4 linked regions of the Homo sapiens genome follow. The protein of the gene in region 1 purifies or fractionates together with the protein of each later gene. This does not show direct contact. Each region holds a gene or a part of one and is shown in the gene's direction. Other genes may lie near its edges.

Evidence for each region.
Region 2: the proteins of ALS2 (region 1) and CHN1 purify together in Homo sapiens (affinity purification with mass spectrometry, with the first as the bait; one large-scale study listed by BioGRID). This does not show direct contact.
Region 3: the proteins of ALS2 (region 1) and CHN2 purify together in Homo sapiens (affinity purification with mass spectrometry; one large-scale study listed by BioGRID and IntAct). This does not show direct contact.
Region 4: the proteins of ALS2 (region 1) and RBM6 purify together in Homo sapiens (affinity purification with mass spectrometry; one large-scale study listed by BioGRID and IntAct). This does not show direct contact.

The regions. Positions count from the first base shown.
Region 1 is NC_000002.12:201,770,871-201,774,435, reverse strand, and holds part of ALS2 (alsin), read left to right. Parts: intron 1-3,565. UniProt on the Homo sapiens protein: May act as a GTPase regulator. Controls survival and growth of spinal motoneurons.
Region 2 is NC_000002.12:174,802,857-174,806,421, reverse strand, and holds part of CHN1 (N-chimaerin), read left to right. Parts: intron 1-3,565. UniProt on the Homo sapiens protein: GTPase-activating protein for p21-rac and a phorbol ester receptor. Involved in the assembly of neuronal locomotor circuits as a direct effector of EPHA4 in axon guidance.
Region 3 is NC_000007.14:29,193,377-29,197,612, forward strand, and holds the start of CHN2 (beta-chimaerin), read left to right. Parts: upstream 1-1,398; 5' UTR 1,399-1,565; coding exon 1,566-1,614; intron 1,615-1,700; exon of another isoform or gene 1,701-2,075; intron 2,076-4,236.
Region 4 is NC_000003.12:49,938,808-49,942,994, forward strand, and holds the start of RBM6 (RNA-binding protein 6), read left to right. Parts: upstream 1-1,342; 5' UTR 1,343-1,418; exon of another isoform or gene 1,419-1,577; intron 1,578-4,187. UniProt on the Homo sapiens protein: Specifically binds poly(G) RNA homopolymers in vitro.

The DNA.
Region 1 (3,565 bases):
GTGAAGTCCTCTTCACTTCCAGGTACCATCATATGGAACCCTTATCCTCCCACCACAAAATGTATAATTCTGCTTATATCTGTACCTGTGATCTCTCTTCTTTCAAAAACGTAGACCTTTCTTCTTATGAAAAAAACAATCCCCCCACATATATTCTGGATGGCATCCTCCTTCACTTTGTCTGGGACTTTGGCTCTGCCCACTGTCCTCATCATCCTTGTATCCAGGACCACAGCCTTTGTCATGCAGACATATTCAGCTTCCTCCCATCTCCCCAACCTCCAGCAAAAGAAAACCCTTCATTTTCACATTCCCCTTCAGCTACTGCTCCATTTCTTTGTTTGCCATTTCAACATTTTTCAAAAGGATCACCCACTGAAAATAAAGATATTTCCACATTGTCACCTCCTGTTTATATTCAGCTTACTTCAATCTGGTTTTCAGTGCCCAAACAAACCACTGAGATTGTGGCCATGCTCAGCCGTTACCTGTGTTGGCAAATCCAATGGACACTTTAGTTATCTTACAAGACCCCAGCTGCCTTGACCTAATTGACGTCCTCCCTGAAGTGCTTTCCTTTGCTTTCATGTGCCCACGGCAGACCACTTCTCAGTCTCAGTCCTCTTTGTCCGATCCTCATCCTATCCAACTTCCAGGCGCAGGAGCTCCTTAAAGCTTGACACTGCGCTTTCCTTTCTCTTTCCATATACCCAATGACATTATCTATTGTCTTGTTTTTAAACACTATCCATACGCCCTCCCAAGTTTAGCAGCTGCTGAGACTTTTCTCTTGAACTCCATGTTCATATATTCAGCTATTCACTTAATATGTACTCTTGGGTTTCTCACAGACATCTTGAACTTAAAAATAAATTTTATCCTACCAGAATCTTATCTTTGCTTCAGAATCGTATCTCCCTCACTCTTGCCCATTTCAGGAAATGGAGCCACCAACACACAGCTATTTGAGGCAGAACCAGGGATCATTTCTGATACCTGCTTCTCCTTGGTCCCCCACCTTTGTCTAATCACCAAGTACTAGTTGTTCTGCCCCCAGAGCATCTCTCATTTATTCACCTCTTCTTCACCAAATTGGCAGCATTGTATGAAACTTAAGAACCCAGGCTTCCTTCCTCCATTGAGAAGATGAGCCGATGGAGTATTTGCAGGCAGGATATTCCTTGCAAAAATTCATTTTGGTGCTCCGTGAGTGTTCACCATAAAATTGGTTTAAAACTTTTGAAACAAATGTAAATCGTCATTGAAATAAATCATTGGCCCTTCGCATTGGCTCACGCCTGTAATCCCAGCACTTTGGGAGTCCAAGGTGGGCAGGTCACAAGGTCAGGATTTCAAGACCAGTCTGGGCAACATAGTGAAACCCTGTCTCTACTAAAAATACAAAAATTAGCCAGGTGTGGTGGTGTGCACCTGTAATCCCAGCTACTCGGGAGGCTGAGGCAGGAGAATCATGTGAACCCAGGAGGTGGAGGTTGCAGTGAGCTGAGATCATGCCATTGCACTCTAGCCCAGGCGACAGTGCAAGACTCCATCTCAAAAATGAAAAAAAAAAAAAAAAAAAAAATCATGAAAGCATCCATAGACTGTCCCACTGGAAGCAATGCAACTCCCCAGTGTACTCTCCAAAATGAAGTAAATGTTCAAAGTACATAAAAGAAACCAAGTTAAGTATAAAATAGTTAAAAGTTTTGAGACTTCTACTAAAAAACGATAGTTGTTTTTGAATATAGATTCCTGGTCCTTTATTCAAAACCCTTGGGGCAAGGTGCATTTTGGAATTCAGATTTATGTTTTGTTCTTTAGAGTAAGATGCATAAACTATATATTATATAACACTTCCTGTGGGATCTGTGGTGCTGCCCTATTCATACTGATATTTCTACAACACGATGTATGAATATTCACACTAAAGGGATAAAAGTGATAAATAACCTCATATCAGTTCAGGTCAGATTTTGCTGTCAGATGAGTTCAGGTCAGATTAGATTTTGCCACCAAAAGTGTTATTGAAAAAACTTTTAATTTTCAGAGCTATAGATTTCTGGTTAAGGTATTGTAGACCTGTAAGATGGTTGTAGCTCATCTTTCTAACAGTTGGGACATCTAGACTAGATTGTTGTTGTTGTTGTTGTTGTTAAGGGCACTTCCAGATCATGGTATTAAAATGATATCCTTGGCTCGTACAGGACAACTTATTTCTCTGTTAGATGTAACAGAAGGATGTGTATCCAGTGGAGTCTAAAAGTGGCATCAGTTTATTAAGAAGCAAGGTTTGCTCTTTGTTTAAAGGGCCCCCTGGGGTTTTGTTACTTTACATATCACTGTGAAGGAGATAATAATTTGAAGGATAGAGTGGTATGCTTTAAAGTGAATCTAGCTGTGTCCTGCGGTTCAGAAGACTGAAGTCTGGTTTGCTCATTTTACGGAGATGCCATTTATCTGTGGAGAGGCCATGCAAGGTAAGAGAGGGTCCCACAGTAAATGCTGTTTATGCAACATCACATGGCTTCTTTATCAGAGCTGGTTAACAGGTCTATGCAGGAAAGTTACTGTAACAGAAGAAAAGCAGCAGAGTACAAGGATCTTGCCCTCTTAAGGAATGATAAAGACCTTAAAGCTTCTCTGGAAGAAATATCCCCAGAGGAAGTTTTATGATTAGGCAATTTTATAAAAACTTAAAATGTTAAAGCAATGAAATAACATACAGAAATTTGAATGCTATTTGACTGGTTGAGGTGAGTCTTAATAGATTTCCTGGAGAGACAATCATAAAAATATTAGAAAGACAAAAGTTTTTCATTTACTTTCTTTTCCTGGATGGATACGTAATTGAGAAAGAATGTTAGATTAAATAGAGTTGGTAAATACCACCCTTACTTAAGTATATGAGGATAAAACTTTAATAACATAAGATCCCCACATTTAGTTGCAATATTCCTTTTTAGTTATGTTTCCTCAGCAATCAGTTTTCTTCATTGCCCTATTGGAGTTTCAGGCAGACGTATCTTGTTGGAAGATGTCAAACATATTAAACACCATTAAAACAAAATGAGATAGGGGCCGGGCGCGGTGGCTCAAGGTGGCTCATACCTGTAATCCCAGCACTTTGGGAGGCCGAGGCAGGTGGATCACCTGAGGTCAGGAGTTCGAGACCAGCCTGGCCAACATGGTGAAACCCCGTCTCTACTAAAAATACAAAAATTAGCTAGGCGTAATGGCGGGTGCCTGTAATCCCAGCTACTCGGGAGGCTGAGGCAGGAGAATTGCTTGAACCTGGGAGGCGGAGGTTGCAATGAACCGAGAGCGTGCCATTGCACTCCAGCCTGGGTGACAAGAGCAAAACTCCGTCTCAAAAAAAAAAAAAAAAAAAAATCTGTAAATACTGATGTAAAAAGATGTCTGTGAAATAATATATTAGTTTTCTACTGCAGCTGCAACAAATTGTTATGAACTTAGTGGCTTAAAATAACACAAATAAATATATTATCTTCAAGTTCTGTGGGCTGAAAGTCTGTCACAGGTCTTGTAGACTAAAGTCAAGGTG
Region 2 (3,565 bases), about 27 Mb from region 1:
TAAAAATGTCTCTGGCATTTATTAGCATCCTTTGCCAACAAAATATCAGAATTTACATTAAACCTTTCTTCTACAAAAGCTGTTTGAGCTCTGCTTTTGCAGCTTTCTTGGAGGAACCTGTAGCTTAAAAGCTGGAAGGGGGTGACTGCAAGAAATGAAAAAGGAAAGCAAGGGTGGAGAAGGCCAGGTCATCCCATGCTACAGCTGGAAGTTCTTCCAAAGCCCCTGGAAACTCCCTGATGAACCCACCTGAAGTCTGTGTTCACTCACCCCCACCTTCCTTACTCCCTCCCCCTGCAGTTAAGACATTGCTGCCCTAGAATAAAAGGACAGGTGCTTGTCACAGAGCCTCCAGTAACCCAACATTATGGATGCTTCCTGGTCACGATGGAAACAGCACTGCCAAAGTTGAGCTCCCTGTGGTAATGAGGGGAGAAATCTTCCTCTGGCCAAGGATTCTGAGAACTCTGTTCCCAGAGCAGCTTCAAAAAGCTACATGTCTCAGTGTGTAACCTTGAGATCAACTCAAAGCCCAGGGTTCTTGGTCCCAAGCAACTTGAAATCTCTGGAAGAGAAGCCTGGGAAGGAGAACTTGTTAGTATTTCCTCAGCTCTGCCACTGAGCTGCCCCTTTTGCTAAGTTTTAATCTTCTTGTATTCAAGTTTCTCTGTGTAAAATTAACTAGACATACTGTAGAAGAGCTTTTAATTAGATCTTTATGGGCTTAGAGTCTTTATTTCCTTCTCGGACAATGTTCACATTTTCCAGATCCTTCCAGGCCCTCCTCTAATGCCATCTGCTCTTCCCTGGACCTCTCAGCTGCAGACCATCTTTCTCCTCTGATTCCCATCACCTCTACTTGGACATCTTTACTGCCTCCTTCCTTCATGCTGGAAGGTTGTAATTACGTTTTGTCTTCCTACTTCACCGGAATCCCTTTTAAAGGGAGGAGTTCTTGCTCATGTTCCTTTTCCCACAGTACCTGTGATAGTCCCTTACTTACGTAATAGGTATAATAAATATTTGTTGAATAAGTCAACTTATAATTTTATATTGAGAACGGTAGGATGTTAGAGTTTGCACATATTCTAAGGGGTCATGCAGCTAGACTGTCTTCTATAAAACATTCTTTTTGAAATATTTAGTTGCTGCAAGGCTCACTCACTGCTTCCAGAGGCAGCCAGTCCACTGGTGGACAGATGTAACAGTTATGAAGCCCTTCTGTGTACAATAGAAATCTGCCTGTTTTTATTTCATAACTCTCTCCCATTGGCAGTGTTCTTGACATCACCCTTATTCCATGTGTATTTTGTATATTTGACAACTGATGATGGTCATTCATCTCTGAATACATTCCATTTTGTCTATTTCTCTCTTAAATTATGCTTCTTATAGCTAAAGAGTTGTGTTCTATAAAAAATGGTAATGGGTAATACTTTTGTAAGTGGAAGAAAAGGAGAAATGAGTTCTGGAGAAGAATGTCTGCCAATTTGATCTCAGTATATTCAGTGCATTTTGTCATTTGTTTCCAAATGTATATCTCCAGCCTGGAGATGTAAATGTCCTCTACCTGAACACCAGATTAATCCACAGTCAGCATGTTCATTTGAATGCCTGACAGGCATCTCAAATGGAACTTTTCTCCACCAAACCTCCTCCACCCACAGTCTTTCCAATCTCAGTTAATAGAGGCCTCGTCCTCGCTGCTGCTGAAGCCAAAAACCTGGATCATTCATGATTCTTCTGTTTCTCATGCATCCTTCATCAGGAATCCAATGAACTCAACCTTCAAAATATACCCAGAATCCAACAAATTCTTATTACCTTCATTGCTACCCCCTGGTCCAAGCTACTGTCATTCTTCACCTGGATGTTTTTAATAATTACTGGAATGGTCTCTCTGCTTTTATTCTTTGCCTTCCACAGTCTGTTTTCCACTAGGCAGCCAGAGTACAGATAACTGAAAAATACATGTCACATCATGACCTTTCCTTGTTGATAACCTTCCCATTTCTCTTAGTAAACACTAAATCCTTAAAATAGCCTACATCCCTTGACATGATTGAGTGCCCTGTTGCCCTTCTGACCACACCTGCTAATATCCCCCTCTTCACTCACTCTACTGCAGCCACAATTGGCTCCCCACTTTTCCTCAAACATTATAGGCGTACTCTCCCCTCAGGATCTCTGCATGGCTCCTCCTCCACCAGCACTGTCTTTCTCCAGATCTCCACATGGCTCATTCCCATTGAGGTCTATCCTGACCACCCCACTTAAAATTGCAACGCCCCCAACACTTCCAATGCTTATGCTGCTGTTTTTCCCATTGCACTTGCCTCATTCTAATAGAGTGTAACTATAATATATCATATTCATGGTTTATTGTCAGTCACCCTCAGTAGCAAGTAAGCTCCCCATGTGCAGGAGATGTTTTTTGCTCACCCGACAACACTATCTCACAGTTCTCCCTACAGAGATTAACTGTGGAAATTAAAAGGAAACTGGGTTCTTTTTTTAATTTCCAGATTTGTGTAGCTTCAAATTAATTTATCCTGTAGTAAAAACTAGAGCTGCGTGCAGTGGTTTACACCTGTAATCCCAGCACTTTGAGAAGCTGAGGCAGGAGGATCGCTTGAGCCCAGGAGTTTGAGACCAGCCTGGGCAACATAGTGAGACCTTGTCTCCATAAAAAATTAACATTTAGCTGGACATGGTGGTACACACCCACAGTCCCAGCTACTTGGAAGGCTGAGGCAGGAGGATCACCTGAGCCCAGGAAGTCGAGGCTGCAGTGAGCCATCATCATGCCCCTGCACTTCAGCCTGGGTGACAGAGCTGTCTCAAAGAACAAAAACCCTAACTAGTGGTTTTTATAGTAAGTGGAGTATTCGTCTTTTATTCTAGAAATTCAATGATTAAATTTCAGTATCTGAGCTGGCACTACTGTTATAAATTGGCACTTTTTAAAGGCCCCAAAGTTCAGAGACCATACATTTTTTATCATGGCAAAAAGCAAATACATTCTTCATTCAAAGAAATGAGCCAGGAACTGTGAAGAAATTTGGGGTAGAGATTGTAAAATGGTCAAAATTTGTTTGAATTAAAAAGCTTCAGTCATTGTTCAGTTTCTGAAATTTATCAAATCTGCTTTACCAGTGCTAGGAAATTTTTACATTCATCTCACGCCAATTTTTACCTGACTTCAATTCATTACTATTGAGTTGGTTTGTTTTATAAGTTAGAAACACTAGGATTTTTTATCTTGTGCATTCTGGTCAGATGTAGTCTTCCTAGCATTTCAAGGCCACCACCCTGATTAGGACTCAGCAGCATGGAGTCTCATTGAAATTACCTTGAAACCCACCTTTTTTTAATTCCCCCCCAAGATGGATTCTTGCTCTGTCACCCAGGCTTAGAGCACAGTGATGCAATCCTGGCTCACTGCAACCTCCACCTCCTGGGTTCAAGTAATTCTCCTGCCTCAGCTTCCCAAGTAGCTGGGATTACAGGCACCCGCCACCACACCTGGCTAATTTTTGTATTTTTAGTAGAGACGGGGTTTCAC
Region 3 (4,236 bases), on another chromosome or scaffold:
GCTGCTGTTCTGTGTCACTCCTGATAATTTTTAAATTGACTATGTTCTTTTAACCATGTTTTAAAAAGTTGAACTACCCCAATGTGAACACTTTCCATTTTTGCTATATAATGAGAGTACTTTCATTCCTTTAATGTTTGCTTTTTCCTTTGATCTAACAATTTCTCTTCAAATTTCACAGTTTTCTGTTGCTTTAGGATTGAAAGAACCGATTAGCCCGCTGGGAGCGTGAAACAGACTTAAAAAAAATCTGCATGGTATTTCCTCCCAGTGAAATTAATTTAGGTTTAAATACAGGGGGAAGGGACACACCTTGTGCTCGAGTCTCTTTCTCTCACACACCTGAGCAGTTCCTATCCTGAAAGGGCACAGTCGGACCTGCTGCCAAGTCTTAAGTCTTTTGTGAGAATCTTTTTTTGCAAGGCACGGAGAACCTCTTTCTCTTTGACACCAGCTTTGTGTGGGCCTGATGACACGTTTGGACGGCTCTATTTCTTTGAAGGCCAACCTCAGAGGCCCACGGACGCGTCGGGCACTGTCCGTGGCTGGGTTACTTAAGTGTAGCTGGGTTGGCTTCCCGGGTGTTTTAGGAAACGCACCTTCTTGCAGGGCAGGGACCGTCAGCTCCAGAGCAACAAAGGACAATTTGGAGAGGAGTGGAAGGAGCGCTCCATAGTGGCTCTGTCATCCCAGGTTCCCTTCTGCCTAGCACCGTGGCCCTAGTGATCCCGCCTTCGCCCTCTGGATCCCCCACCCCCACTGTCTCGCTGCTCGAGAGCCCGGCGGGGCGCGGTGAGCCCCACCACCTTCCCCCACACCCTCCCTCCCCATCCCCTTCAAATCCTAGGAGCAGCGCTGCGCGCAGCAGCCGCGCTCGCCCCGCGCCCGGCCCCGGCCTCCCCAGCACCCCGGGGACCCGGTCCCCCGTCCCGCCTCCCCCTGTCCAGCAGTCCGCAGCCTCCCCCTCCAGCCCCAGTGGCGGGAGCTGTCAAGCCCGCAGCAGCCGAACCACCCCCCGAGCGACCGCGTCTCCTCTTCTTCCTTTGTGTGTGCGCGAGCGGAGTTGGGGCGGAGGGAGAAGGGGGAGGTCGCTCTGTCTGTCCGTCTCCCGCCGCCTCTGCCCGGTCTACTCGAAGTGCGGCGGGAGAGGCGGGAGCCCAGGAGAGGGTGCGGGAGCTGGCGGGGCGGCTCGGAGCTGCCAGGACGCCCTGGTCCCAGCCGCGCACAGGGGAGCGTGGACGGCAGAGGGGCTCGGCGGGAGCCGAGATCCGCCCGTCCCGGCTGCCCCTCGGCCTCCCTCTGCTCCCACCTACCCCCTGACACCCATAGAAAAGCGTGCAAAGGCGCGGAGCGGGACGGAAACCACAAATAAATAGCGGCGGCGGCAGCGCGTCATCTGGTGGAGCAGGAAGTGCAGGCAGAGTCCGGAGGCTGGTGCTTTCTGCGCGTCCCCAGGACTTTGCCATGGGCTGGGGGCCGCGGAGGCTGCGAGCGGCCGGGCGAGGGCAGCGGCGGCGGCGTCCGCACCGGGGCTGAGCGAGCAGCGACGCGAGGGGCGCGCGGAGATGGCAGCGTCCAGCAACTCCAGCCTGTCCGGCTCGTCGGTGTCCTCCGGTGAGTTTCAGCCCGTCGGGCGCTGCTGCCGCGCCGGGTCTCGCCCCACTGCCCTCGCCCCGCAGCCTGGGATGGACAGAGCCTACCTGTGGCCATCCCGCCCGCTCTCTCGGAATGGGGGCAGGCGTCCGGGGTGATACTTGTTTGGTTCGCCAGCACCTCGGTGCCCAGAGCACCTCCGCGCCTGACATCTGACAGCGCAGAGGTGGGAGAGCGGTGGTGCCCTTAGTGTGCGGACGCGGGTGTTCCGGGGCTTGGAGTGCAGCGAGCGAAAAGCGAAAGGAGCGGGCAGGCTCGCACTTTCTGGCGCAGCTGGAGCGGGGGCTGGCGGGGCGGAGAAGGTTGGGGTGAAGCAGAGCGCCCCGACCTGTTTGCCGTGCCGCGCCCGCTACCCTGGACACCCAAATCCGGAGCAGAGGGGAGCAAACCCTCGCTCCTCGCAGACTTGATTTTCTTTGTTTGTTTCAGAAATTAGCTCTATGGAGACACTCGCTTGGGCATGGGTTTTAGACAGCAGCAATGAAGGGATGTATCTTTCTGATCCTGATTGAAGTGGGTTAGGGGAAGAGAGGTCGAGCCCATCCTCTGACTCTTGGCACATTTACGAGAGAGAGAGAGAGAGAGAGAGAGAGAGAGAGAGTGTGTGTGTGTGTGTGTGTGAGAGAGAGAGAGAGAGAGACTCCTTAGAGATTTTCTGATAATAGTGGCTGTAATTTCACTAGCAAGGCATGCATTTTTTTTCCTTTTAAGAATGGTTGAGCAAAGGGAAGGCTTCTTTCAGCTTTTCTATGGTTGATCATCGGGTCTAATTGAAGAGAAAAAAATTGCTAATGAATCTGAAGGAGTAGGAATCAATAGAGGCAGACCCACTGGTTTCTGAGTATGACAGGTTTCTAATCAGAATGATGCATTAGGTAGAATTCCTGTACCTCTCTGGTCATTGAAAACTTTAATGACAAACCCAAAGGGATAGCTGATAAGACATTTAGGGTAGTATACAGTATTTAAGGGTCAAGAAGGTCATGAAGTCCTAATGGAAGTGCTTCAATATATTAATATTGTATTAAGTCCCATTGGGCTGTTTTTATTATTATTCGCGAATTAAACTCAAAGGAAGAAACACCTTTTTGGAGGCATTGGATAGCAAGCAGGGCAAAAAGGCAACCACAGCTTTAGATGTGTAACTCACTAAATCATAAATGCAAGGTGAATTTGACTAAGGTGCAATTGTGATGTGGCACAAGGTGATCACTTGAAAGCCATCTGTTATCTTTCTTGGCAGATTTACTTCCTGGGAAATGGCACTTCCTTTCTCGATCACTGCCAACTAATTGAAAACACGTTGTTGTTAGGTGTGTGATATAGTTCAAGTTTCTAGTAGTGGCAGCCAATGGGGCAGAAGTCATATCTTATTAAGAGCAGCAACAAGTTGACCGCCGTGGTTTTAATTCTGAGAACTCAGCAAATGCTACAGTTTATTTTTAGTACCCTCAAACCACTGCTGCTGTTTTTCAATTCATTTTGGTTGACTAACATTGAATTTAAAATACAGTGGTGTTGGCTTTCTATTAGCATATGGTTATCCCTCTCAGAAAACTGCCCACTAGAAAATGAACTGGTGGGGCAAAAGAAAAGACGAAAGGAGAAAGGACAAGGAGCTGGTGGTGTCACATGATTTACTGGTGGCATGAATTACAGCTGCTGTGGCATCTGAATTTCCAGATCTTGATGTAGCTTAAGAAACCTGATTGAAAATCCTAAGTCAGCCTTCGGAAGAATACGTTGGTTTGAAACAACACAGTATGAGATTTAGATGATGGTAATTGCTTTCAGATAGGTTAGAGATGCCCATGATAGTTCTTTTTCCTGCTTTATTTACCCCTATTTTTAATCCTAAGGGAAAATGGGAAATTATGTGAAAACTGAAATTCAAAAAGTGGGCATGGATGTATTGTTTGGCATGAATCAGCCTAGCCCATGAGTTTATACTGCCTAATTCCCCAATTAATCAGGCACTTTGTCTTGAAAAATACAGCATTGTAGTTCTCTTTTAAAGCACACTTACCATTGTGTGGATCATGAATAATTCAGATGACACAAGCAATTCACACCTGTGAGAGGTGTTGGGCAGAAAGAATAGAGTCTATTTGTGGTGGCAGCTGGGCTCTCTCAGGGGAAGGCCAGAATCTGAGAAATTAGGGCACTCCGTCAATGTATTAATCACTATTTTCAAGGGCCTACTATGTGCCAGGCAGTAAGTTATAAACCTCAGCTTCAAGAAGGCTAAGGGGGAAAGATAATTGTAGGATTCCCTCTAGCTCTGAAGTTCTGGGAGTATTGTCTTTTAATTCTGGCTTCATCACCGACCAGCTGGGTATCTTGGAGTGAGTTACTTAACTTCTCCAAGCCTCAATTTCCTCTTTTGTAAATGAGGCTGATACTGATGATAAGACCTACTTGGTAGAGTGTCTTGGGGATTGAATGAAATAATGTGTGTGGAGTATTTAGCACAGGGCCTAGCATTTAATAAATGCTTAATGTGAATAAATTTTACTTCTTTGAGGAATGAAAAAGAAGGCATTCACGGGCTCAGAATTTAGGTGGAGACATGAATCCAACACA
Region 4 (4,187 bases), on another chromosome or scaffold:
CAGTCTCCCTCTGTCGCCTAGGCTGGAGTGCAGTGGCGCTATCTCGACTCACTGCAAGCTCCGCCTCCCGGGTTCACGTCATTCTCCTGCCTCAGCCTCCTGAGTAGCTGGGACTACAGGTGCCCGCCACCACGCTCCACTAATTTTTTGTGTTTTTAGTAGAGACAGGGTTTCATCGTGTTAGCCAGGATGGTCTTGATCTCCTGACCTCGTGATCCACCCGCCTCGGCCTCCCACAGTGCTGGGATTACAGTCGTGAGCCACTGCGCCCAACTTCTTTCTTTCTTTCTTTCTTTTGAGACGGAGTCTTGCGCTGTTGCCAGGCAACAGTGCAGTGGCGCGATCTCGGCTCACTGCAACCTGTGCTTCCCGGGTTCAAGCAATTCTCTGCCTCAGCCTCCTGAGTAGCTGGGATTACAGGCATGCGCCACCACGCCTGGCTACTTTTTGTATTTTTAGTAGCGATGGGGTTTCACTATCTTGGCCAGGCTGGTCTTGAACTCCTGACCTCGTGATCCACCCACCTCGGCCTCCCAAAGTGCTAGGATTACAAGCATGAGCCACTGCGCCCGGCCTTTTTCTTTCTTTCTTTTTTTCTGAGGTGGAGTCTTGCTCTATTGTCCAGGCTGGAGTGCAGTGGCACAGTGTCGGCTCACTGCAACCTCTGCCTCTGCCTCCCGGGTTTAAGTGATTCTCCTGCCTCAGCCTCCCGAGTAGCTGGGATTACAGGCACCTGCCACCAAGCCCGGGTAATTTTTGTATTTTTGGTAGAGATGGGGTTTCACCATGTTGGCCAGGCTGGTCTAGAACTCCTGACCTCAGGTGGTCCACTCGCCGCGGCCTACCAAAGTGCTGGGATTACAGGCGTGAGCCACCGCGCCCCGCCAACCAGCTGGAGATGGCTTAAACTTACTCCCGAAGAAGCTCCCTTCCATTTCTCTCACACTAACGGACAATAAGGAGGCCTCGAGCTAGGCAGGCCAGGGCCGTACCCGAGCTGCTGGCAGGGAGCAAACCTCAGGAAAGTCAAGCCACCAAAAAACTGTAAGCCTCAATCAACTGAGAGGAAAGCACAAGAGGACCAGGTGTCACAGGGCAGAGGCCAAACCACAACTCCCAGCAGGTCACGCGGAGTAGGGCGGGTAAGCGCGCCTTCTTATTGGATGGCGATGGACAGCGTGCTCTTACGACCCACCCCAGAAGGCAAGTCCCCTGCGCGCGGGGCACGGCGGGAGTAAGAGTCTGCGGGACCGGCAGCTGTACTTCATCTCCCAGCGGGCCGAGCGCTGAAGGCAGCGGCGCGGCGCCTTTGTGGTAGCAGTGGCCCCGCGCGGAGGAAGTTCCGGTGTCCGCGGCGCTGGGTCGGTGGCGGAGGCTGAGGAGAAGGAGGAGCGGGCCGTGGAGGCTTCGCCGCCTAGGTAAGGGCCCGGGACTGGAGGGGAGGCGTGCCAGAGCCTGCCAGGGAATAGCCAGCAGACAGGCCCGCTCTAGACATCGCAGGCCCGCGCAGCCTGAAAGCTGTGGCTTCAGTGTCGCGGGGCGGCTGCGGCCTCGCTCGGGAAGAAGACCAAGCAACGGTGAGATGAGGGAGGCGCCGCCCGTGGCAGGAACGCCCCGGAACCGTCGCGGGCCTGGGGCGGGGCCCGGCGCGGCAGTAGATTACCGGTCCCGCCGCGGAGCGGCCAGCTGTGAGGCTGGGGCCGGCGCGTGGTTGCGGCTCTGTGCTCCTACTCTTCGGAGCTGTAAGCGGGCTGTTCTTGCGGTTTTCCTGTTTCAGATCCAATTCTGTGGCATCACTAGGAAGGGAGCTCTTGTGCTTAGCACGTAGCCTCGTCCTCAGACTTGGACAGACACAAGGGAGGCTCCGCTGGACCGGAGGGCACAAGAGCTCCGAGCCCGGTCGTCGGGGCGGTAGAACCTGGAAGCGGGAGAGTGGTCTGGTGGGTTCTGCGCCCGTTAGGCAATGAAGGAGAAGGATGTTTTATCGTATTCACGCTTTAGATTCCATTAGCGGTGTAAATAGATGTTTTTCTCTTTATTTTAGAATTGACGTTAGGCGAATGGGTTCAACTTTGGGAATGCCTTTTTTTTTTTTTTTTTTTTGAAGGAAGGGCCCTGTTTCGTAGGGTACATAAACCGTGAGCGTAATTGTATTTTTTGCATATTCCAGGTTTGCTTGTGAAGGTCAGAGTAGCCGGATTTAAGTGAAGGAGTTCAGTAGACATGCAGACATGGTCACCTGGTTCATTTTCTGAACCCTGGATTGTGCCCTCGGCTTGCTAGTTTCCACCTTCCTATTGAGAAATGCCACCAGCGTGAATGATTTAAATATGTCACCATTACTGAATTTGTGAGGTCTCTAACGAGAGGTGTCAAGAGCTGGTGCGTGATGGTAGGACTGGCAGTGAAGAAAGTAACTAAATAATATGTTACCATTTTGGTGAAACACAAAAGTTGAATTTGAACCTTGTCTCAGAAACTAGCATCTAACTAGATACCTAACCTGCAGGACAGGTCCCAGGTCTCTCTGGATAGTTGTAGCACCTTTCCTTATAGAATTCTATTACCAGGCCGAGCCTGGTGGCTCACACCTGTAATCCCAGCACTTTGGGAGGCTGAGGTGGGGAGTTCGAGACCAGCCTGACTAACATGGAGAAACCGCGTCTCTACTAAAAGTACAAAATTAGCCGGGCATGGTGGCACATGCCTGTAATCCCAGCTACTTGGGAGGCTGAGGCAGGAGAATCGCTTGAACCTGGGAGGCGGAGGTTGCGGTGAGCTGAGATTGCTCCATTGCACTCCAGCCTGGGCCACAAGAGTGAAACTCTGTCTCAAAAAAAAAAAAAAAAAAAAAAAAAAAAAACCCGCAAAACTCAACAAAAACCAACATAGTAGAGGCAGCGTTTCGCCTTATGCCCAGCTAATTTTTTGTATTTTTTTAGTAGAGGCGGAGTTTCGCTATGTTGGCCAGGCTGGTCTTGAACTACTGACCTCAGGTGATCCACCTGCCTTGGCCTCCCAAAGTGCTGGGATTACAGGCGTGAGCCACCGTGCCCGGCCCTGTTATAGTATTTCTAAAACAAATTGTGAGCCTGGGCAACATCGCAAAACCCTGTCTCTACAAAAAATACAAAAAAAAAAAATTAGCCAGGCGTGGTGGCATGCTCCTGTTAGCCCTAACTACTCAGGAGGCTGAGATGGAAAAATCGCTTGAGCCGGGGAGGTAGAGGTTGTAGTAAGGGGAGATAGTGCCACTGCACTCCAACCTGGGCCACAGAACAAGACTGTCTCAAAAAAAAAAAAATCAATTAAATAAATTGTGGTAAATATATATTTTTATGTATGTTTATGTATATTTTAACAAAATTTGCTCTTTAAACCATTGTTAAGTATACAATTCAGCCAGGCACGGTGGCTCACGCCTGTAATCCCAGCACTTTGGGACGCCGAGGTGGGCGGATCACGAGGTCAGGAGATCGAGACCATCCTGGCTAACACGGTGAAACCCCATCTCTACTAAAAATACAAAAAATGAGCCGTGCGTGGTGGTGGGCGCCTGTAGTCCCAGGTACTCAGGAGGCTGAGGCAGGAGAATGGTGTGAACCCGAGAGGCGGAGCTTGCAGTGAGCCGAGATTGCGCCACTGCACTCCAGCCTGGGCAACAGAGCGAGACTCCGAGACTCCATCTCAAAAAAAAAAAAAAAAAGTATACAATTCAATGGTATTAATTACATTCACAATGTAGTACAAGCAATACCACTATTTCTGAAACTTTAGTATCTCAAACAGAAACTCTGTAACCAGGGAGGGCATGGTGGCTCACGCCTGTAATCCCAGCACTTTGGGAGGTCAACGTGGGCAGATCACTTGAGTTCAGGAGTTCAAGAACAGCCTGGCCAACATGGTGAAACCCCGTATCTACTAAAAATACAAAAATTAGCCATGCATGGTGGCATGCATCTGTAACACCAGCTACTAAGGAGGCAGAGGTTGCAGTGAGCTGAGGTCATGCCATTGCACTTCAGCCTGGGCTGCACAGCCAGACTCCATCTCAAAAAAAAAGAAAAAAAGAAACTGTAACCATTAAACAAGTTAACTTCCCATTTCCTCCTCTTAATCTCTAATCTACTTTGTGTCTGTCTGTGAGTGTGCTTGTTCTAGGTACTGCAAATACTAAATGGAATCAT